2 linked regions of the Homo sapiens genome follow. The protein of the gene in region 2 interacts with the protein of the main gene of each other region in a pairwise test. Each region holds a gene or a part of one and is shown on either strand. Other genes may lie near its edges. The genes, in order: KLHL2 and TMA16.

Region 1 (12,068 bases), 1.7 Mb from region 2:
TTCAGCAGAAGTGGCTTAGCAGATATCTCCAAATAAAACTGTTGAGAAATGATCTTCTCCATTGGAAATTAACTTGCTTTTACAAACTTCTATAGTCATACGTTATTAACAAACCAAGACAGAGCAGGATCATATTTTACACAAACTTCAGAAACTTAGAATCTGATTTAAATTTTGCTCTCTACCTGCCAGGATATATTAACCCCATATATTTTGACCTATACTAACAAGAGATTAATCGAGATTAATCATGTTAGTTAATAGTTATTGAGTATTTACCATATGGCAGCCCTGTGCTGAGTAGTTTACTTTCATTATTTGGTTAATCCTCACAACAACTCTCTGAGCAAATTACTATTATTATCCCCATTTAACAGATGAAGAGAATAGTTTGAGTAACGGGGTAAATGGTAGGGCTGGGTAAGAGTATGGCCAGTCTGATTCTCCATCTTGTTCTTTTCACTAATATTTCAATACCATTTCCTACACTGAACAGTGAATATTTAAATTTACATTTTTTAAGCACACAAGGCTATACTAGCATTGCTACATGAATTATTCTTTCAAGACTTAGGACATAAAATTAACCAAAAAAATCAGGGTCCCATGAGGAGGGGGGCAAGAATTAACTGCAAATTAATGAACACAAGACAACTTTTTGAAGCAATGGTTATAAAACTTTATAAATTTAATAAAAATCATTAGATTGCACAATTATAATGGGTGGATTTATGGTATGTAAATTATACCTCAATAAAGCTATTACATAAAAAATCAGGGCACCAATTTTTTAACTAGGCTTAAAAAATGAAGTCTAAAAATATCATACTTGTATATATATCAAAGAACAAGCAAACATCATTATTAATTGCTGCACTTCTCTTCCTTTCCTGACCCATTTCTAAAAGGATGATTCATTTTTAAACATTATCGTTCATTAATTCATTCAGCAATTGTTTTTAGTACCAACCATGTACCAATCACTACTCTTAAGGCACTTGGAATATATCAGTGAATAAAACAAAGATCCCTGTCCTCATAGAGCTTGGAGTCTGGTGGGGGGAAAGGGAAAGACAGCACAAGTCAGGGAAGCAACTGGCATGTTGGGAAATGGTGTTATGGAAGTAGAAAAAGCAGGGCAGCGTGAAGAGAGAGAGAAATGTGGGGACGGTGGAGGGGTGTAATCTGCAGTAAATAGGGTGCTCAGGGAAGGCCTAGTTGAGAACTGAGATTTGAACAAAAGACTAGGGGGTGTGGGAACATCCGGATGGAAGTAGTAACTACAGCAAAGGCCAATATGTACCTGGTATGTTCCAGGAACTGTGACCCATGCAGCTTTGGCAAAAGGCTGGGGCTGAGCAGGAGAGGGGAGTGCAGATCACAAAGGGCCTTTTAGGATATCCTAAGGCCTTTCACTTTGAGTGAAATGAGGAGACACTGCAAAAGAGTGATACAATCCGACTTACGTTTTCCAAAGACCACTTTGGCTGCTGGTTGAGAACACTCTACACGGGTCAAAGATGAAAAGGGGGCAACTATTTAGCAGGATATTACAATAATTCACTAAAAAATGACAGTGGCTTAGGGAGGACAGTCGCAGTGGAGGTGATGAAAACTGGCTGGGTTCTGGACATTTTGAAGATACAGCCAACGAGATCTGTTGAAACAACCATATGACATGTCAAAGAAAGTCAGAATGACTCCAAGTCTTTTGGCCTGAACAAGAGAAAGGACTGAGTTTCTGTTCATTGAGATGAAGAAGGCTGCAGGTGGAAACTGTTTGAGATAGGCAGAGATCAAGAGCTGTTTTTATACCTAATGGTTTTAAAACATCAGACATCCAAGTGAAGGCATCAAATCACCAGATAAATATTGGAGTCTAGAGCTGGAGAGAAAAGTTTAGCTGGAGTCAGAAATGTGGGAATCACTGGTTACATGGATGGTACACGAAGCCATGAAACAGGTACTCAACATGAATATAACCTCTAAAATTAAGCAAACCCCAAACCCCAGAATCAGCACTAGTTGAAGCACCTGACTCTCTGAGGGCTTGCCTACTACAAGTGCACATCAGTTCTACTTCCTCACCGCTTGAGAGTTTTTAAGGGGCCTAACAAATGAATTAGCGCAAGGCTTTACCTCCACAGGGAAAGCCTACAGCTGAAGTGGGAGAATAAGGAGGTGCCACTCTACTCCCTATGCCCTCTTGAAGGTGTGTGTGTAGGGAATTAGTTACACCCAGTCTAAGAAAGGAAAAGCACTGATAAGTCTAGAAGCCAAAAAGATGGCAGAACATTCACGTCTGGAGGGAGAGAACTGGAGAAACACTTTATAGTATAAGACAGATATTCTCATTCTACCTGTAAAGGAAACAGTAAGAAACCAGGGAAAGGGGAAAATGCGTAGATATATGCAACCCATGCAAACTTTCTAACCATGTAACACTGCATGTCTATATACGATAGCAAGGTAATACTTATTCTATATTTGCTTCTAGTTTAATAATTTAGAAGGTGCAACAAAGGAAGAATGTTATACTGAGGATTAGCAAAACTATCATAAAAGAATTTTCAATGCTTGAAAGTGGAAGCAAAAGCAACTCTGCCCCAGAAAGAATGTCATGATTTAAGAGTCAGGAGTGTTTATATTTGCTTAAGAACTTAGGAATTAAAATTCCCTGCATTGGAGAATTCACTTTAAGACAGTTGCCATACAACAATCAATGCCCACATTGGTGCTCTCTTAAACCTATTTTCAGCTCCTCCTTTTTCTGATGTACTACAGAAACCCTGCAAAGAAGACTTTATTCAAAGGCTTAAAGGAATAAGTAAGAAAAAACACTGAATTTTGTTAAGTGTTCTCTGTACCGAGAGTCACTTACAAATACATCACCCCTTCTGCAAACGTCCATTTTCAAAACGAATGCCCTTTCCATAAATTTCCATTCCCTGTGTGGCTTTGTGTTAGATGGCTTCTCATTCAGAAGCAGAACAGAAAATGATGCATAATGTCTAAAACTATAGATGTGAGACATATATACATATACATACTAGGAATAACTAGTTAAGTGAGAGGTAAAGGTTTACCCTTTAGGTTGTACCACATTAAATGAAGAATTACACCTTTGCCCTGCTTCTCTTCTGAAGCAAAGTGCTAGCCTTTTCCAGAAAAGCTTCTCATTCTGAGAACTGTCTCCCTTAAAATACCTGAAGAAGATATTTTTCCAAGTTCCTTTCACCTTTAAGTCTTTATGCAACTCTTAGACTCCTCAAGTAGTCTGGCAATTATCCAATAGCCTATTGTTATCAACACATACTCTAAAATAGTTGAGGTTTCCCAGGGTTTGGATCCCAGTGTACTGCTATGTTTTATCATAGATATCCTAAAGCCTTCCTTCAGTGACTGACTTCTGCAAATTCCCAGCTGTGGACACAGGTGGCTTCTCAGATGAGGTGACTTTCTGACTCTGCCTAAGAATACACTATTGATGATAACTGAATTCTCAGACAGGAAGAAAACAAAGACTCTAACAGGGCTGTCTCTCTCAAATAGTCAAGATTTCCAAACCAGGCAAAGGTTTAAACCTGCTGTAACAATTCTGAGAACACCACAGAAATGAAGTAAAACTTCTTTAGATATTTATTATTGGCTTTGAAACAATGGTTTTCAGCAGCGTGAAAGAGAAAGATCAGAATCACCCAAGCAATTTTTTCAAGCCACAAATAACCACCCCTTCTCACATGAAGAGTCACACAAGCCCTTTTTAGAATTAGCTATACATACATGATGGCATCTCCAGGAGTATAGGAGAAAGCCAGCAATGCGTGATTTTTAAAAATAATAATAATAACAAAAGTCATGTAATATGTCCTGCCACCAACTTACCTCCCACCTCAGAATCATCCCAGATTAAAAACAAATGCTTTAGAAAATATGTTGTATTTTTAGAAAAAAAAAATGCAACCATTCATGTGAATGATGCAGCTGCAAAGTTTAACAGGAGATCAAAGACATTTTGACATTTAGGACATAAATACTTGGCCCTTGGGTGGCCACCATCACTGTTCTCCCCTTTGCCTGTTCACCTCAAAAGCTGCAAGACTCCCCTGCTTGCAATGAGTCACCCACCATTACTCACAAATTTCTGCCAAGTTCACGTCAGCAGCTGTTGTTTTCAAAGTCAACATCCATGCTGTAATGTTTTGAGGTTTCTCCATTACTTTATAATATTTCTTCTATTTCTCTGCTGTCTTCCCAGCCAAACTTGCATTCAGAAGCAGGCATCTTACTAGCATTGCTCTCATAAACAAATCCAGGATATCAGAAGTACAGAGTCAACCATAACTAACATTTTAACTAAAATTTGTTATGTCATTCTACAGTTTCTCAACAAAATACTCTCACATCCTTCAAACAAATAACCACTATATTACTTAGAGGCTGTGAAGGTAGAAGACTTTCTCAGTTGGAAACACGTTTGGGTCTATGGTAGGGTTGTGATTTCAATTTTTGCAGTTAGCTAAGGCAAAGAGACACACTGCAAATTTTCTTCACATGTCTGGAATTTAAACTTTTATTAGGTATGGAAACAGTAGACTAATCTACAAACATATGTTCATATTACCAAATAAATAGAGCTTTTTAAAAATGTTAACATTTGCCCTATAGACATGTAAGAACTTGGATTAGGTCTTCAGTATGTAGAACTGAATATGAGGTATCTTGTGAGATAAAAACTTCTATCTCTTTTTTCTTTGTATTACTTACTTCTCCAAGAAAAAAAAAAAACTTCTGATCTTGCATCAAGTCACAGAATGCCTTTCAGACAATATCATAATGCCATTGAATATTTTAAACATATATAGTTAAAAATTATTTTTCCAATTTTCCAGAGCTGAAAAGGAAACATCTAGAAAAGCTTGAATTGCCAAACTTTACTAAAATATATTAGCAGTTAAAAAGCAGAGCCCTGAACTCACTGAAGGGCAGAGGGAGGTATTAAAGAGCACCCTATTCTCTCTGGAGAACTCAGTTGTGCGGCTGTATGTTAAGTGTGTGGGGAAGCATTGGCAGGAGGAGGAGGTTGGGATGTCTGAGGTGGATGGAAGTTGGAGTATAATTGCTCTCTGATAGTAGAACAATGGAGCTGTAAAAAGCTCTGCTTCAGTTCAACTCAGCTTTCTCTCCCTCTTTCCCTCCCACCTACATGACAAACAGAACACAATCAGGCACTTTTTGTCCCTGACAGTGACTATTACCAGGAAAAGGACCACGGTAAAAGCATGTCTTATGCAAGATCAATCTCCTAAGGAATATTTTATAAATAACTAACAAAGCATTGTCAGAGTGGGATATTTGTGAGGTGCTAAAATAGGGAAAAGGAGGTTGATGATCCATTTCAAACATTTCCATTTATTTTATCACTTATATTTCTGACTTTTCCTTTGCCCCTCTTCCTACTATTGCCATCACTTCGTTGGTAAGGGGGCGGCAATACGACTCCGCAATTCAGTTGACTGGGATACATTTTCCAGCACTGAAATGAAAAGGTACTAGATGAGAACCAGAATCAGAAAGAAGCCCAAAATTGTAGTTCTGTCTATGCCAAATACTAACCAAGAGACCCTGGATTAGTCACTTAGCCTCTCTGGGCTTCAGACTACTTATAAAATTTATTTCACAAATATGTCTGATGTGAAATGTAATATGAAAGTCAAAGATAGTAATATCTCACCTACCTATCTCAGGGAGCTGTATAGGCACTAGGCACTATATGAATGTAAACAAAGTTTAGAAGAAAATTGTTGAATTCAGGATCTAAACTGAATATGCAGATATATTTTTATGGATCTTATTGGCCTTCATTTTTAATTGCAACATTCAATTCAAAGTTAATAGCAATATTCAAAATGACCAAAGCCAATAAATTAAGTATTTAAGTGCTGCCTAGATGCCCACTGCATGCCATGTACTAAGAAGGGTAAGAAACATTAGGAAGGCTGAATTGAGATCTTCCTCCATTTACCATCTAAACAGGAAGGTACATGGGAAACCACTAAGGAATGGCACAAGTCAGTACATAGGTGCAGTGACAAACACCATAGGAATGCAACGATGAGCTGGAATGAGTTGGAGTAAAGAGGAAAGACTTGGTGAAGGAGATGGGGCTCCAATGGGGCCTTGGAGGAACTTCAAGTTGTTGTAACAGGGGAGAGAAGAAGAGAAGCATAGGAAAAGGCTGGAGAATCCTGGCTTGTGGACAAGGGAGAGTTTTAAAAGCACATGATGATCTTGGATATATAGGATAAGATAAAATGATGAAAGGCTGTGACTGCCTGAGTCTCTGGTTTTGATAAGTCACTTCACATGACTCTAAGATGTTGGAGGGTTAAAACAGTGTGGGGACTGAAGGATGAGGAGAGAATACACAGAGCTCAATAGAAGACCAGTGAAAAAGTTCAGGTATCAAGTGATGAAATCCATTCATCAGAATAGTAGCAACCAGAATGGACACTTGAAACCAAGACCACAGTTCCTGGGGACTGATAAGATGTGGAGGATGAAGAAAGAGAGAGAAATCAAAGACTATTCCAATGCTTTGGTTATCAGGGACCAGAAGAATGGTTATCCCATTGAATAAGTGGAAATGTTATAAAATGAAGTCAGTTTGTGAACAAACATCAGTTTTGGATATATTGGGTTTAGAGGCATGAGCTAAGAGTAGAGATGTGAGAAGTTCAAAATTCCACACCAAAGCACAGACCTAGAGCCCCGACTTAAGATATAGATGGAGCTAGAGCTCAATGATTAACAGGTGATTGAAAAGAACTGGCCAAGGCCTACTTCCGTGAGGAAATACTGCCCACAAGCAGTGATAGAAGAGAAGTCATGCAAGACAGAAAAAAGTGATACAACAGAGAGATTAGAATCCCACTTTTTCTAATACTTGATAAGCTTGAGAGAGTAACTTAAACTCTACTTCTTCATCTGATAAATAAGACACCTACCACTATAAGGTTGTTGACAAGACTAAGTGAGATTAAGTGATAAAGTATGCAAATCACATTTAGCAACCTAAAAACCAGAGTAGGAAAACAAGAAAAAGAGCTATCATAAAAAGCAGGGGCTTGTTTTTCAAGGTAAAATCAGAGAATGGAACTGGTCAAAGGAATATTTTAGCAAATGCCAATAGTCTGAAATGTAAGAAAGTACAGTGCGTAACACACAAAAAGTTACGGACCCACTCACTGCAGCAATTATCTCATCAGGGGAAGAATTCAAGAATGCCTTTGTGCTTGCTATTCTCTCTCCCTGGAATGCTATTCCCCCTCTGGATTGTGCTAAAATATCACCTCGTCAAAGACACCCTGACCCTATCTGAACTATTATTCTTATTATTCTCTACCCTTTTATCCTGCTTCATTTTTGTTTACTGTAATACTACTAACAATATTACATATTTGTTTGCTATTAGTTTCAATCATAGGAAAAGGAACTTTGTTTTCTGAGATATCCCCAAAATCTGGCCATAGTAGGCACTCAATAAATATAAATTAAAAACTCAAACTACCTCATCATAAAGAGTAAATGCATTTGGATTTGGTAGAACACTACAGAAATGCAACATAAAGTGAATTTCCTTCTCTGGATCACCTTGAAAAAACCTGCCTGATCTTAAGAAAGAAGTTCAGTGGTCTTCATAAGCACTACTAGTGTAAATCCGTAACAGCCATAGATGAGTAAACTTACAGTCACCTTCAGAAAAGCACATTTACTAATAGTTACTGCATGCCTACCATGTACATCAGAAACAAAAGGTTTGGGGCATTTTGCAGGGAGTAGGTGGAGTGATTTCCCAGCATCAGAAATTTTTTAAACTACTACATAAATGCTACCTATTTCCAGAATTCACTTCTCAAGTTCCCAAATGCACCTCAAAGTTGTCTCTATATGTAACACTTCCTTCAACACACATTGATCCACATGTCTTCTTTCACCATTACCTTGTTTGTGGGCCATTATTACTCCTAAATATTTTAAATGTCTTTGTCTATCACTGGGGAGATTCACCTGTGATATGAGAGATGCCCAATGTACATTTAGTTAAACAAAAATAAGAATACACTCCAATGCACTATAACAGACAAACAAATGAATACTGGGTATCCTGTAGCAAGGTTCCAAATTCACAGCAATTGAATCTTAGAAAGAACATTAAAGGTCATCCGGTCCAGCGGACTGCAAATGTCAGGCTTCAGTGAACTTTTTACTGATCTATGTCAAAATGAGGACAATGTAATAAGTTTTCATAAGGCTAAGTTTTTTAAATTTAAAGACAATCCTTTAGTCAGATTATATTCTTCCTTATATTTGAGGAAGGATACTAAAATGTTTTTTTCTTTCATAAAAAGATGGTGATAGTTGATCATTGTTGTTTCATAAATAATTCTTTTACTTAGCAAAACAAAAAACTTAGCAATTGTTAGACTTCAATTGTTTTTTTCTTTTTTTAATTTTACAGGTCAGTTAAATTCAAAAATGTGAGAACCTCTGCTCTAATCCAACCAATTTTCTGCTGCCTAAATGCCTTAGAACATGGTCAACAAGTTGTTTTTCTGCCTATGCATGACCACCTCTGACGACAAGTCTCTAGTAATGTGGAACCATCAACTGAAAAAAGATATGGTTCTATCTGAGGGATGTTTGCTTAGTTTTGTGAAGGAAAAGCAAAAAAATCAAGGCTTACAGAGAGTAAGCCGACTTGTGAAAATGGAGCCAGTAAAAAAACAAGTGCCAAGAAGACTGATCAGTAAGAGAAGATCAGAGGGATGCACTCAGGCCTATACCTCACAGTCTTCCTTCAACTTATTATGAAAATCCTTTATACAAATAACTATAAAAGCCAGACTGTAAAATACATTCCTGAGGTCAGGGCTGGTCAATTTACATTTCCTTTTGCACATCTCAGTTTACCATCTGAAATTCCTTTACTAATCTACATCTAAACTACATCTCTCAATTTACTACCTGAAATTCCTTTACTAAGCTACATCTTTTAGTTACACATCTTTCAGGTTTGATCAGAAGCAAATGTAACACAGTCTCAATATCACCCAGACCCAGAATGCAACAGAATCTAAATGCCACATATACTCAAGTATGCAAAAAACAATAAGCACAAATATATAGTCCAACGACAATTTTTAATTATATGAGAATTAAAAAGGATGAAAGTTGGAGGCAAGGAATAGAAAAAGCACAAAAGATCAAAAGCTAATTTCAAGGAGTCCATCCTGAAGGAACCAGGAATGGTGGGTACAGATGCCTGACCTCCCTCCAAGACAATGTGCCAACAGGCCAGTGGAGAACAAGGTGGGATCTGAGAACAATGTAAATTTGGATGTTAAAAGAGAACACAAGCAAAAGCACCACGCACAGTGCCAGGCAGAGACAGGCATTCAAATATTTGCACATTGAATGAATTAATAAACAGACACTTACACAAAGAGAATCTGGGGCCGTGCTTCCAACCATACCATAAGGCACTTTAAGTCCAGGTCATCTTTCTTTGACTTAAAGCTCAGGCTAAAAATCTAACTTCATGAAAAGCTGAGTCTTCCTAATAGTTTCCACTGGCCTCTGTTCTAGCCCAGCTCTGGCAGTGAGGCCCGGTAAAGTTCCTTCCTAAAGACACTGCCTGCAAGTCTCAAATCCGGCACACGGGATCCATGGTGGAGGGATGTTAATGGGAGTGGAGGCAAACAGGCCAAGGGGTGGCAAGGAAAAAAACTATTTCTGATCCACAGAATGGCAAATAACACCATAACGAGTTCTTGAATTAGGTTTAATCCTGGACAGAACCAAATGAAAATAAAAACCTACTTGTATTTATAATTAAATAGACAGAAACAATGAAAAAGTCTCACCAACTTTAGCCACCCCTGATTGAAAGGAGTTTTAACAATTCTTTCATCCATGCTGGCATTCCAAGTTTTCCATTATATCTCAGCCTCTCATTGTTCCAGCACTATTGATGGAATCTCAATGCCAAAAATGGCGCTGGTCATCAAAATTATGATTAGCTGATCTACCCTAGAGTCAGTTTATCAATGTTTCAATGCATACATCAATTCTATTTTTTATTATTTCAATTTAAATCATCTGTGTCTCTATTCCCTCCCTCCCTCCAGAGGCTGCTTTCCCACACCCTTCTTTTCACCTGCATTCTAAGTATTCCCTTGTTCTTTCCTTTAGCTCCCTCTGTTCCAAAAGTAAAAACGAACTGCAGGAACTTATGTAGAAGGCAGGTTTACTACAGATAGCATACCTACATGTTACATATTATATACCATATGTTGGCTAAATACAGCTAGCATATCCTGCTTTAAGTGCTTCTGAGCCTGGGCAGACCCCCGTGTGCTCATGCTGCTGATGTGAACCATCCACCATCATATTTCCTAGGGGTTCAGGTGCCTTCCTCCAGCCTGCTGAAGAACATGACCAAATCTCAGAGCCCTCAAAGCCACAGCTATCGAGAGGTGACTAAGCCCCTGCTTCTGTCAGCCCAGGAAGGCCAATTCAAGAGTCTTATCTACCCCCTAGATTTCCACGACCTGTTCCACTCAAGCTAAAAATTCTGAAACGCACTTTTAGAAACTGTCGTTCCAGAATCCCATTAGCTCTCCTAAAAGGGCTGAACATCAAAAAATTATTCAACCCAAGCCAAGTATCCTTATTTTGGCTGGAATTCTGCCAAATAACCACAAGAGACTGGTGCGGTACAATCGGCATGGAGTGAAGCTTGCCAAATTTGACCGGAGAACGACAAGCCTCCATGAATAAGCTCTCATGAAAAGGTAAACCATTCTTCAGGATGAGGTTTGTCTGCGATTTGAAAAGTCAGATTCAAAGGACTCTTGTTCCTTCCTAAGAGAAGAGGGAACCAAAATTGAAATTTTCGAAACTCCTGGGTATTTACAGTTCACTTTTACCAAGATGTTTTTAAAACTAAAAACTAAAATTTAAAAAAAAAACCCTTGTTCTGAATAATGCAATAATGTCTTCTACATAATGTTTCAGCTATTATTTCTAGAAAGTAATTCTGTTGCCAGTGATCTTGAATGTACTTGGGTACCAAAGAAAAAAGACACCTGTGCCTGGCAGGTCGATACGCTACTAATTTGCCCGAGGTACGAACGAAACAGAAGATGCTGATTTCTGGATAAAACGTTCTGCAGTGCCAGGTAAAAGAGGTCACATGCCCTGAACGGCCGCCGCTCATTTAGAGTGATGCAAAAGCTCCTCAGATATTAATTTTGTTAGAAATTCGGGGAATCAAGCAACCTAAGATCAATTCATTTAGACAGCGGGTGACTGGTACTTTCCAGTTTCCTTTTTTCAACGGACTCAGTGCATCCTAGCCTGATCTCTTATAAAGGGGTAGGCAAACTCGGCACCAGGTGCCCATGCATTTCAGGGAGGTACACACAGGACCTGCAGGGTCACCCATGCACAGCCCCACCCCGAATCTTCTATCCGCCCGAGATGGGGAAGACCCTTCCCCAGAAATCCTGGGCAGCGTTTTAAGTCACCGCCTGGCCAGGCTGAGTTTCCGTCCGCGTCCGCTCAGGACTGCGGGCACAGCGCCTCGTCACGCCCCGCATCTCCCACCTCCCGCCGGCCCCGGCGGCTGTCCCCAGAGCTGCGCCCGCGGCCGGCGACACGCGCCGCAGCGGCGCGCTTATCCGCAGCGGCGCAGCCCGCCCGCCCGCTCACTCACGCGGGAGGCAGCGGCGGCGTCTCCATTGTGGCTCCTCTCGGGCTTCAGAACGCAGGCACCGACCAACACAGCCAGCACCATTCCAGCCGCGGACGCCGGCACTGCCCGCCCGCCGAGCCGCGTTCCATCCGCCCCGGAGGGGGCGCCGCGCTCTCCTCACCGCGCGCCACCACCTGCGGCGGCGGCCCCCGCGGCCATGGCCCGCTCGGCCGGGCGCGCTCCGTCTACTGCGCGGCTCCCGCGCTCGCCCGAGTGCGGGGCGGCGGCGACGGGACCGGCGGGCGCGCGG
Region 2 (12,667 bases):
GATGTGTAGAAATTTAAGTTTGGCCGTAGCCGGCTTTTGAGTTAAGAAGTCCCAGGCTGCTGTGAAGAAGTAAACAACACAGGGCCAGGGGCCATTTTAACTCATTTTTGTAACAACTAGCTCCTTATTGAAAGGCACTTTATGATTTTTCCCAAGCCAAAAAGAAAAGAAGAGTCACAAACAGGTCAAAAGAAAAATTACTAATTTATATATGACAAAAGTCTAATTTTATAAGTATAATCAGGACTCCTAGAAATAAGAAAAATGATAAATTAGCACAGCTGTCTCCAAAATCAACCTTGAAAACTACAGAAACAGGAAGAAATTGGCTGTTGGAAGTAAATGAAGACTGTGAGAAACCCCTGGGAAGAAGGGAACTAGTGACTAGAAGGGAGGGAGGCAGCCGAAGAGCACAGCAGTCACATGGGGAGGAGGATGTCCCTGGAAGCTTGGGAGGCTCTGGGGAGGTCATATATAATCTTAGCTCTTGTCTCCCGTACTTCACCTGGGAAGCTTTGCTGCCCTCCCAGTGTTGTGAAGCACTACCAGAGGAGCACAAGGCCAGGCTAATAAGGAGCTGATAGAAATAGGACTAGGATGAATTGTACCCTGGAATGTTCAGGCCTCCAACTCCTGTCAGCAGAGGTTATTGGTCCCTGGAGCTCTCTCCTCTGAAACTTAACCCTTCTGCTTTCCTCAAATTCTCAAAAAAGGATTCAGTTGAGAATGTGTCTTTGAGCACTTCCCTAATAGACAACACAGAGCAGTATAGCTGATTTCATCAGTAAATTAATGTGATGCTACAGGTTCAAAGAAACTAGGTACCTATATTAGTCCATTTTCACACTGCTATAAAGATACTACCGGAAACTGGGTAATTTATAAACAAAAGAAGTTTAATTGACTCACACTTCCGCATGGCTGAAGAAGCCTCAGGAAATTTATGATCATGGCAGAAGGTGAAGGGAAGCAAGGCACATCTGACATGGTGGCAGGAGAGAGAGACAGCAAGCATAGGAAATGACAGACACTTATCAAATAACCATGTCTTATGAGAATTCCCTCACTATCACAAGAGCAACATAGGGGAAACTGCCCCCACGATCCAATCACCTCCCACCAGGTCCCTCCCTTAACATGTGGGGATTACAATTTGAGATTAGATTTGGGTGGGGACACAGAGCCAAATGATAACATTCCACTGCTGGCCCCTCCCAAATCTCATGTTATTTTCACATTTCAAAACCAATTATGCTTTCCAAACAGTTCCCTGAAGTCTTAACTGATTCCAGCATAATCTCAAAAATCCAAGTCCAAAGTCTCATCTGAGACTAAGCAAGTCCCTTCCACCTACGAGCATGTAAAATCAAAAGCAAGTTAGTTACATCCAATATAAAGTGGGGGTACAGGCATTGGGTAAATGTTCTCATTCCAAATGGGAGAAATTGGCCAAAATAAAGAGGCTACAGGCCCCTTGCAAGTCTGATATTCCGATACCCAGCTGGGCAGTCATTAAATCTTAAAGCTCCAAAATCTCCTTTGAATATAGAGATGGAAAATACAAAACATAAATACAAAATATAAAACATGATGCAAGGCAGTGTACAGCTTCTGTGGCTGCTTTCACAAACTGGTGTTGAGTGCCTGCAGCTTTTCCAGGAGCACAGTGCAAGCTGTCAGTGGATCTACCTTTCTGGTGTCTGGTGGATGGTGACCCTCTTCTCACAGCATCACTAGGCAGTGCCCCAGTGGGGAATCTGTGTGGGGGCTCCAACTCCATATTTCCCTTCTGCATTGCTCTAGCAGAGGTTCTCCATGAGGGTTCTGCCCCTGCAGCAGACTTCTGCCTGGACATCTAGGCATTTCCACACATCCTCTGAAATCTAGGCAGAGGTTCCCAAACCTTAACTCTTGTCTTCTGAGTACCCACAGACCCAACACCACATGGAAGCTGCCAAAGCTAAGGGCTTGCACCCTCTAAAGCAATGGCCCAAACTCTACCTTGGCCCCTTTTAGCCATGGCTACAACTGAAGCAGCTGAGATGCAGGGCAGCATGTCCTGAAGCTGCACAGAGCAGAGGAGTCCTGGGCCAGGCACACAAAGCCATTTTTCCCTCCTCACCCTCTGGGCCTGTGATGGGAGGGGCTGCAATGAATTTTCTGACATGTTCTGGAGACATTTTCCCCATTGTCTTGGCTATTAAAACATTCAGCTTCTAGTTACTTATGCAAATTTCTGCAGCTGGCTTGAATTCCTCCCCAGAAAATGAGTTTTTCTTTTCTACCACATGGGCAGGCTGCAAATTTTCCAAACCTTTATACTCTGTTTCACTTTTAAACATAAGTTCCAATTTCAAACCATCTCTTTGTGAATGCGTATAACTGAATGCTTTTCAGAATAAGCCAGGTCACCTCTTGAATGCTTTGCTGTTTAGAAACTTCTTCCATCAAATACCCTATATCATCTCTCTCAAGTTCAAAGTTCCACAGATCTCTAGGGCAGGGGCAAAATGCTACTAGTATCTTTGCTAAAGCATAGCAAGGGTGACCTTTGCTTCAGTTCCCAATAAGTTCCTCATCTCCTTCTGAGACCACTTCAGCCTGGACTTCATTGTCCATATTACTATCAGTATTTTGGTCAACAAGCCTCTAGGAAGTTCCAAACTTTCCCTCATCTTTCTGTCTTCTTCTGAGCCCTCCAAACTGTTCCAACCTCTGCTGGTTACCCAGTTCCAAAGTCGCTTCCACATTCTCAGGTATCTTATAGAAATGCCCCACTACCTTGGTATCAGTTCTCTGTATTAGTCTGTTCTCATACTGCTATAAAGATACTACCTGAGACTGGGTAATTTATAAACAAAAGAGGTTTAATTGACTCACACTTCCACAGGCTATACAGGAGGCATATAGGGAGCCCTATATGCCATATATGCCAAGGAAACTTGGCAGAAGGCAAAGGAGAAGCAAGGCACTTCTTACATGGTGGCAAGAAAGAGAGCAGGGGAAATGCTGGACACTTATCAAACAACCAGATCTCATGAGAACTTCCTCACTATCACAAGAACAGGATGGGGGAACTGCCCCCGTGATCCAATCACCTCCCACCAAGTCCCTCCCTTGACATGTGGGGACTACAATTCAAGACGATATTTGGGTGGGGACACAGAGCCAAACTATATCAGTACCTGAGGAGAACTTATAATAAAAGAAACTTGAAGCACACTGAATAACACATACCACATGAAGCAGATTTATTGGAAGAGATGGACCAATAAGCAAGCACCATATATATCTGCAAGAGTTAAGGAAGGATATTGATGATAGAACAAAGAAATAAGAAATTACTTTTAAAAATTGTAAATATTTATTTTAAAAATGAGATAGTTAAAATGAAGATGACAATAGGTGGGATATACAGCAAGATGATTACATCAAATAAGAAAATAGTAAATCAGGGCCAGGCGTGGTGGCTCACGCCTGTAATCCCAGCACTTTGGGAGGCTGAGGTGGGCAGATCATGAGGTCAGGAGATTGAGACCGTCCTGGCCAACACGGTGAAACCCCATCTCTACTAAAAAATACAAAAAATTAGCCGGGCATGGTGGCGGGTGCCTGTAGTCCCAGCTACTCGGGAGGCTGAGGCAGGAGAATGGTGTGAACCCGGGAGGTGGAGCTTGTAGTGAGCCAAGATCGCACCGCTGCACTCCAGCCTGGGCAACAGAGCGAGACTCCGTCTCAAAAAAACAAAAAACAAAAAACAAAAACAAAAAAAACAGAAAATAGTAAATCGGAAGATCAATAGAAACTCTCCCTAGGGCAGCAGAAATAAATAAAGAGATGGAAAATACAAAACATAAAAATGAAAAGGGGGCAATAAAAGTTAGGGAGGATAGTATTATCAATGCCCAGATAGTATAAATTCCAAAAGCAAATTGAAAGAGGCCACAGATTACCAAAGATGTATGTAACAAAATACCAATACCTAGAAACATAAAGTAAAATTGAAGAAGAGCAAAGACAGCAGATATTATTAAACAATTCCGCAAAGCTAAACCACTCACAAAGGAATGAAATTTAAGATGCAACTTCACAATAGGAATATTGGACTCACATTCTCCAAGAGAATATGAACTAATATATTTGTGGTTAAAAAAATTTAACATATTGCATTGTGAAGTGTGGCATATAAACATAAAAGTGCACAAAATGGAAACGTGAAAAAGAAAGAGTAATTATAAAGCAAACACCAAGGTAACCACCACAGAGGTGAAGAATATTGCTGGCCACCTATAAAAGTATCTGTAAAAAATGTAATCCATTTTGCCTGATTTTAAATTTTATATAAATGGGATTATACTGTATATATTTTTTTGTGCACTGCTTCCTTTACATTATGATAAAAATTTATCCAACTGGTTTAGTGTACTTGTCCTTTGTTCATTTCATTGCTATCTAAAATTTACCACACAACACTGTTATTACAAATAACACTACTGCTATTCTTGTATATGTACCCTGAGAGAAATGTGCCAGAGTTAGTCTATGGTATATACCCAGGAATGACACTGCTGCCTTAGAAAATGTACACATTTTAACTTTTAGGTAATGCCTAACTGTTTTCCAAAATTGTTAAACAAAAGTTGGCTCTTTGAAGTCAGGAATAAGACAATGTTGCCTGCCCTCTCTCCCTCCTTGTCTCCCTCTCTCCCTCCCTCCCTTCCTTCCTTCCTTTTCTTCTCTTTCTCCTTTCTTTCTTTTTCTTTCTGCTTTCTGTCCCTTCTCTCCGTCTCTTCTTTCTTTCTTTTGAGATGGAGTCACTCTGTTACCCAGGTTGGAGTGCAGTGGCAGGATCTCCACTCACTGCAACCTCCACCTCCCAGGTTCAAGCAATCCTCCCACCTCAGCCTCCCAAGTAGCTGGGGTTACAAGCATGCAGCACCATGCCTAGCTGATTTTTGTATTTTCAGTAGAGACAGGGTTTCACCATGATGGCCAGGCTGGTCTCACACTCCGAACTCCTGACCTCAAGTGATCTGCCTACCTTGGCCTCCCAAAGTGCTGGGATTACAGACGTGAGCCACTGCACCTGGGTGTATTTTACAAAAATCTAGGCCTGTAATTTTAACATAGGAAAATATTTTATTATTCTTAAAAAATTTAAAAAAAAACACCTTTGGCTCTCCCGGTCCTCAATTACGTAGGTTTTTGTCCTTGTTTCAATAGTTTATGCTTTTTATTCTATTCTACCTCCTTTTTTGACCTTATTTTGTTGGTTTTTTTTTTTCCCTAACCTCTTGACATATGGATGGCTAGTTCTTAATGTTCAGTCTTTCTTCTTTTCTAATATTTATACTGAAGCCTCTAATATTTACATGAATGGAGCTAATTATTACTTCAGGTGCATCCCACTAGTTTGGATATTTATTGTTTTTGTTATTGTTCAGCCCAAACTATTTTCTAATTCTCATTATGACTTCTTTAGTTCCTGACTTATTTCAAAGCACAATTTTTAAATTTCTCAATATATGACAATTCTCTAGTTGTCTCCTTGTTATTGGTTTCTAGTTTAATTATGAGGTGGTCAGAGAACATATTCTATAGATTTAAATCCTTTCAGATTTGTTTAGACTTGCTTTCTGACCTAATGTGTGATCAATGTTGTTAACTATACCATACGTATTTAAGAACACACGTATTCTTGTAAGAACTGGAAGCACTATTCTGTGTAGATTTGTTAGGTCAAATTTTGTTGTGGTCAAGTCTTCTCAGTCATTGGTGATTGTTTATCTGTTTGTTCTATTATTTACTGAAAAATGGCATGCTAAAATTTCCACCAAGGCTGTTGGTTTTTCAACTTGAAACTGCATCGGCTTTTCCATTATATATTTTGGGGCTGTGTTACTAGATGCACATGAATTTAAAATGGAAACTTTTTATCATTATGAAGTGATCTTTTATATATACCATATTACTTTTTGACCTAAAGTCTATTTCGTATAACATTGATATATGTATACCAGGATTGTTTCAGTTAGCATTCACCTAGCATAACTCTTTCCATTTATTTTTCTATTTTCGTGTACCTTAGATGTGTCTTATAAACAGGATACAGTTGGATGTTTTCAATACAATCTGACTTTTTTTTAGTTGGGGGCAGTTATTTCGTAATTACTGTTTTATGGATTTAAATCTACTGCCATATTTTTTTTTGTTTTCCTGTCTTATGTTTCATGTTTTCTCCTTTATTTTCTTAGTTGGAATTACCTGAGTATATTTTAATCATTCCATTTATTTTATTTTCTCTACTTGTGTGTAGCCTGTACAAAGTTAGGTACCCTGTTTCTATTCTTTTAGTTGTGACACTAGAATTATGCATTTGTACTTATTGTATCAATACCTAATGTTAATCAATACTTAATCCTCACACATACATACAACACACACATACACACACATCTGAGTATATTTGTTAAAGTACAGGAAAATATCTCTAAAGATGTCTCCAAATCATCTACAGTGGTTATTGCACGGGGCAAAGGGGAGGTTGAATTGGGAGGGGAAAAGTTGGGGGATTCATTTTGCTTATCACAGTGGTGCATACATATATTAAACAATGACAAAACATTAGCCATCATTATTATCTTTATTCTTGCTCTGTATAATTCATGTTTGTATTTGCTACAGTGTATTTTGAACATATACAGTATATTTTTAACATGTCTATAATCAATGTTATTTAGGGGTTGAATCTGAATGAGGAAAATATGAAGATTTATTTCTAAAACTCAACTAAAAATAAAAAATAAAAGTTTCAAGATATATGGTTTATTGAGTTGTTGGCAATTTGAAGTTTAGGAATGGGTTAGGAGTAGGTAGGAATTTTATGATCAATAGAGCAATCAGTAACAGCTAAAATAGCCAGAAGGAAAATTTAATAATTAAAAGATTTGCAGTAACATAGAACTTAGGAGGGTGATCTCCACAGGGCCAGACTTAGGGAATGGGGTAGGGTGGGTGAAAGATGGCTTCACAGGAAGTGGCTAAAGTATGGAGCTAGGGTGTAAATATTCTAGATTAATTGGAGTCTTTCACAGAGTACCGTCATGTGCATGTAACAATGTTTTGGTCATGGACTGCATTACAATGGTGATCCCATGAGATTATATTTTTACTGTACATTTCTTATGTTTAGATACACAAGTACTTACCATTGTGTTACAATTGCCTACAGTATTCAGTAGAGTAACATGCTGTACAGGTTTGTGGCCTAGGAGCAATGGGCTATACCATACAGCTTAGGTGGGTAGTAAGCTATACCATGCAGGCTTGTGTAAGTGTGCTCTATGATATTCACATGACAAAAAACAAACAACAAAACCCCCATTGAAATATTTCTCAGAAAGTATCCCCGTCCTTAAGTGATGCATGAATGTGCTGCCTCCACAGTATATATTCAAAGGTGACCTTCATTGCATAGATTCACACACAAAAAAAGCCATGTGAAAATACCTTGCCCCTAGATTCAGGAATCTTCTGGACACACTCTTGTTTACAATTTAAATTATTTCCAAAAATTGATATATCTGTCGATTAAATACAAGTATTTGTGCGGCAGGAGAATAGGGTCTGGAAGCAGGGAAGCTAGGACTGATTTGTGCTGATGGGATATCAGTTGAAAGACTACTCCCCTTCAACCCCTCCTTTTTCTGCATGGCAGTTGCTGCCTGGCAGTTGCAAGCCCTTCTTTTTCTGTGTGGCAGTTGAAAAATGAAAGTGCCTCAGATTGGTCCCCTTCCTCAACCAATCAGACTTGTGGAAGACCAATGGGAAACCTCTAGAAGGTATTTAAACCCCAGAAAATTCTGCAACCTGTGCTTTTGAGCAGCTTGCCACAGCCTGCTTCCACGCAGTGGAGTAGTGTACTTTCATTTAAAATAAATCTCTGCTTTCGCTGCCTTGCTTTATTTGTGTGTTTTGTCCAATTATTTGTTCAAAACGCCAAGGACCTAGCCAACTACCCTCAACTGTTAACAGCTGCACACACATATCAAGGCACACCAGCTTCACCCTGCCTGGAGCTTCTTCCCATGCCTAGTTTTCTCTTACAATTCCGGTCTCTGCTCAATTATCACTTCTAAAAGAGGACTTTATAGAGACCACCATGTGTAAAACAGCTTTTCTACATGCCCCCGCCAGCTAATTTTTATTAGAGTACTTATATTATTTGAAATAATATTTTTACATGCCTCCATCCCCTGGAAAATGAGCTGAGTGAGGGATATTGTTGGAGTATCCCCAGTACCAGGCACACAGTAGGCATTCAATAAATAGTTTTTGAATGATTACATTGTCTACGGAATTCTAACATGTATGGGTGAAACAAAGACTCTCACATGCTGTGAGAAGAAAACAAAAACTGGGTTGGCAGAGGCCTTGAATATGAGGAAGTGGCCTTTCCGGATAAAGAAACTAAGACTCGGCCGGGCGTGGTGGCTCAGGCCTGTAATCTCAGCACTTTGGGAGGCCGAGGCGGACGGATCACCTGAGATCAGGAGTTCGAGACCAGCCTGGCCAACACGGCGAAACCCCGTCTCTACTAAAAATACAAAAAAAAAAAAAAAAAAAAAAAATTAGCCGGGCGTGGTGGCGGAGGCCTGTAATTCCAGCTGTTCGGGAGGCTGAGGCAGGAGAATCGCTTGAACCCGGGAGGAAGAAAGAAAGAGGGAATGAGGGAAGGCGGGAAAGAGGGAAAGAAGAAAAGAAAAGAAAGGAAAGAGAAGAGGGGCGGGGCGGGGCAGGGCAGGGCAGGGCAGGGCAGGGCAAAAAAAGACTCAGTGCAGGAAAGGACTTGCCCAAGGTAATCTAGTACGTGGAAAAGCGGAGGGCAGGAGCCTGTGCCGTGCAAGAGCTCCGGGGAGCCAACACCGAGCGGCCCTTTTGAGAGGGTCCCAGCCCCTGAGATGCGGGAGCCCGCAAGAGGGAACCTCTTGTCTGAAGAGGTTGCTGCGCTCTGGAGTCGTGCTCTGGGACAGATGGGCAAGCTCCGCTCTTGGGGCCGGAAGCGTGTAGCGTCTCCACCCGGGCTCCAATCCCCAGCCTCGCACTCAGCACCAGGCAGAGTTCAGCCTCCCGCCGCAAGCTCCCTTCCGCCGCTCCCGGCGAGCACGCAGGTCTGGCTGTCCGTTGGGCTAGAGCTTAAAAGCCCAACACGGGCGAAAAAGACGCGGTCTCAGTTAACGGGGACGCTTTAGAGAAACGCACTCGCCTCTCCTGTTCCGGTTGGGTCGGCGCGGGCTTCTCAGGCGCCACGTGGGATTCGGCCCGGGTGCTCTTGTGAGCTGCTGCTCCTGCGGTTGGTGAGATTACCTGGGTCTAGAGTGCGGAGCTGCTCCGTGGCCACGAGGACGTCACCATGGTGGGCCCCCTCCTGCTCCCCCGAACCGCTCGGTTGGTTCCCCGGAAGGCTCTTGTTGAGCAGGCAGAGAGGGAGGGTGCGGTTTCGGGAACCTAGGAGAGGGGAGGATGCAAAGTGTTTATTTTCAGGGAGTGTGCGGGGTGCGGGGCGAAGCCTCTGGGAGGCGAGTCCCAGGCCCAACGCCTGGACCTTAGAGTTCCGCGTCCGAGTGCTGAAGTGCTCACACGTCGCCTTGCTCCTCTTTGCCTTGTGCCTAACTTCTCGCTAGTCACTACTTCCTGGGGGAAACCCGGCACCTTTCCATTGTAACGCATCGAGGAGTTTGGCAAAACTTCTGAGATCGCTGGCCCTACACACCTCTGCCTCTCTGGCCTGGGTAGACTCAGTATGTGGGCTTAGTCGCCTCTTCCTCGGCGTCCGTTCACCTCTCGTTAGTGCCCTGAATCCTGCCGTTACGCCCCCATTCGCTCCAGGGCACTGAAGCAGTTTTGTTGTTTTTATTAAAAACTGAGTAGATACAAAAGAGTGTTACTAAAGCACATTTCAAGTGTAAAGATGAACAGTTTCAGGAATTCTCGTTTACCCATTTTGTAGTTTTAAGAAATAAAACATAGCCTTTGAAAGCCCTGTGTTACCTTCTTTGAACTTTCAGGAAACCTTAAGAAGCAAACATTATCTAAGTTTTGTATTTATAATTTCACTACTTTTCTTTATAGTTACTACATATATTTGTATTTTGAAACAGTATGTTGTTTCTTGCCTATTTTTTACGTAATCGTTGTGTTCTTGAGAGTAATTCTTGCATAGAAACATGCTTTATAAATTTTTTTCAATTAATTTTTAATAAAAGCAAAATTTTAAAAGTTTATAATCTGGTCAGAAGTTACGATATTGTGTCCACAATGTGGCCTCTTTGTTTCTTTTCATTTTTTTCTCTTTTCATTGTATGCCATTTTTGTCTTACAGTCTGGTTCTTTCGTTGTTTCGCGAGTTTTTTGTGCTTTATTTTGATCCACTGCTGACGCATATTTTGTACTTTAGATTGTACACATTTGTGTAAATTCAGTGTTTGCTTGTCACTTTGCTTGTGGGATTTCCAACTCTTTATAGTGTTAGTTTTTTTCCCCTTTTCAGAGTGGAATATGAAAGCAATTACATCTCATTGTGTTTGAGTGATTGGGGAGATAGATTGGTATTTGACTGTAGTTGTCCTTGACTATCAGAGCTTCACTTTTTATCAGGCTGTATAGTAGAAGTACGTTGCTTTGGCATAGAAGTCAAAAGAGTGGCATATGAACCTGTTTTCATTGGCTCATTTCTGGCTCTGTCATTTTTTTTTGATATAACCTCATTAGTGGTTTTGCTGCATCCTCTTTCAGTACAGCTCAGAATGTGGTCCCAAAGGACAGAGTTGGGCACCTGTCTTTCCCTGAGTTGCCATCTTGGCAAAATTACTTAACCTCCCATCTGTTTAATTGGGATAACAATAGTACCTACCTCATAGAATTGTGGAAATTAAATGTAAAGTGCTTAGTCTAGTGCCTGGCACTTAGTAAATGTTATTGTTATTAACTTTAGTTATATAAATAGTAACAGTGTACAGCTTATAGTTGTTCATCCTTGTTACTTTGCTCATTAATGTTCTCTTATTGTAAATCTTTGCTGGAGCTTAGCAAGTTCATATCTTTATATCAAAATTTAGTTTACCTGTTATATATAAATAATCTTTTCAAATTAATCCATTCCACTCAACACTTCTTTATGCTGCATTAAAAAGGTTTTTAGTGTTTATTATTTTTTATTTTTTTTTGAGACGGTGTTTTGCTCTTGTTGCCCAGGGTGGAGTCCAGTGGCATGATCGCGGCTCATTGCAACCTCCGCCTCCTGGATTCAAGTGATTCTCCTGCCTCAGCCTCCCGAGTAGCTGGGGTTACAGGTGCCAGCCACCACACCCAGCTAATTTTTGTATGTTTAGTAGAGACAGGGTTTCACCACATTGGCCAGGCTGGTCTCGAACCCCTGACCTCAAATGAGACAGGGTTTCACCACACTGGCCAGGCTGGTCTCGAACTCCTGACCTCAAATGATCCACCCGCCTTGGCCTCCCAAAGTGCTGTGATTACAAGTGTGGGCCACCGTGCCCAGCCAGGATTTTAGTATTTTTAAGTATGGCTCATACAATACTACTAGGCACCCATGGGTATACTCCTTTTTATATAAACCTGTCATAGAGCTTGTGTGTGCTTCTTTCCCTCCCTAGCTAGACTATATACCATTGAAAAGTGTGCCATCATCCTCCGTGCATTTATCCATGCACATTACTGTGGGGCATTAGCTGTTACTGACTACCTTAATGGTAGAGATTGTGTGTTTTGGGGACTACATCTATAAATGTGAGCCACAACAACAAATCAGCTTAATACATCTCATAGAGATTATCTGTTAGTGAAAACTTGCTCCTGAAAGTTAGTAAAACTAAAGAAAAACATTAATGGAAATCTACCTAGTATACCAATCTTTTTGAGACAATATTACTTGTACATGGTTTAAAACACTAAAAAATGGTTTCTCATAAAAATTGTATTAGTTTCTTATTAACTGCCATAGTAAAGTGATATGCATTTAGTGGCTTAAAGCAACACATTCATTTCCTGAAACCTCTGGAGGTCAGAAGTTCAAAAATGAGTCTTAACTGAGATAAAATTAAGGTGTTTGTCAGGGCTGTCTTTCTTTAAGGGGCTCTAATGAATTTTTCTGTTTCTAGAGGTCATCTACATTCTTTGGCTCCTTCCCTCTTCAAATCCAGCAGCATGGCATCTTTAAATTTTCCCCCAGAGAAGGTTACATTTTCTCTGACAGTGATCCTCCTGCCTTCCTCTTACATGGACCTTTAGGATTATGTTGGGCCCACCTGGATAATTTTCCCCATCTCAAGATCTTAATCACATCTGCAAGTCCTTTTTGTCATATATGGTAATATATTCCCAGGTTCTGGAGGAATCAGGGCGTGGATATCTTTTGGTCGGAGGAGGGCAGAGCATTATTGCGTCTGCCACAAAAAGACTTTTTCCAGCTCTCTTGCCTAATGCCCTGGTTCACTTGAGAAACAGCCACTGTTAACAGTTTCTTAGCTATCAATTCAGATACTTTATATGTATGTACCAGCATATATGTATGTTCCCTAACCTTTCTTTTTACATAAATGGTATACTGGACACCTTAGTCCCTTGCTTTTTTGTCTTACCTGATCTT

The links.
Region 1: the proteins of TMA16 (region 2) and KLHL2 interact in binary tests that used the Homo sapiens proteins (3 or more experiments, as listed by UniProt).

Annotation. Positions count from the first base shown.
Region 1 is NC_000004.12:165,207,614-165,219,681, reverse strand, and holds part of KLHL2 (kelch-like protein 2), read right to left. Parts: 5' UTR 11,861-12,068; coding exon of another isoform or gene 11,806-11,860; coding exon 11,780-11,805; intron 9,664-11,779; exon of another isoform or gene 9,540-9,663; coding exon of another isoform or gene 9,502-9,539; intron 1,658-9,501; coding exon of another isoform or gene 1,467-1,657; intron 39-1,466; exon of another isoform or gene 1-38. UniProt on the Homo sapiens protein: Substrate-specific adapter of a BCR (BTB-CUL3-RBX1) E3 ubiquitin ligase complex that mediates the ubiquitination of target proteins, such as NPTXR, WNK1, WNK3 and WNK4, leading most often to their proteasomal degradation.
Region 2 is NC_000004.12:163,485,390-163,498,056, forward strand, and holds the start of TMA16 (translation machinery-associated protein 16), read left to right. Parts: upstream 1-9,300; 5' UTR 9,301-9,412; coding exon 9,413-9,415; exon of another isoform or gene 9,416-9,507; intron 9,508-9,772; exon of another isoform or gene 9,773-9,835; intron 9,836-12,667. UniProt on the Homo sapiens protein: Involved in the biogenesis of the 60S ribosomal subunit in the nucleus.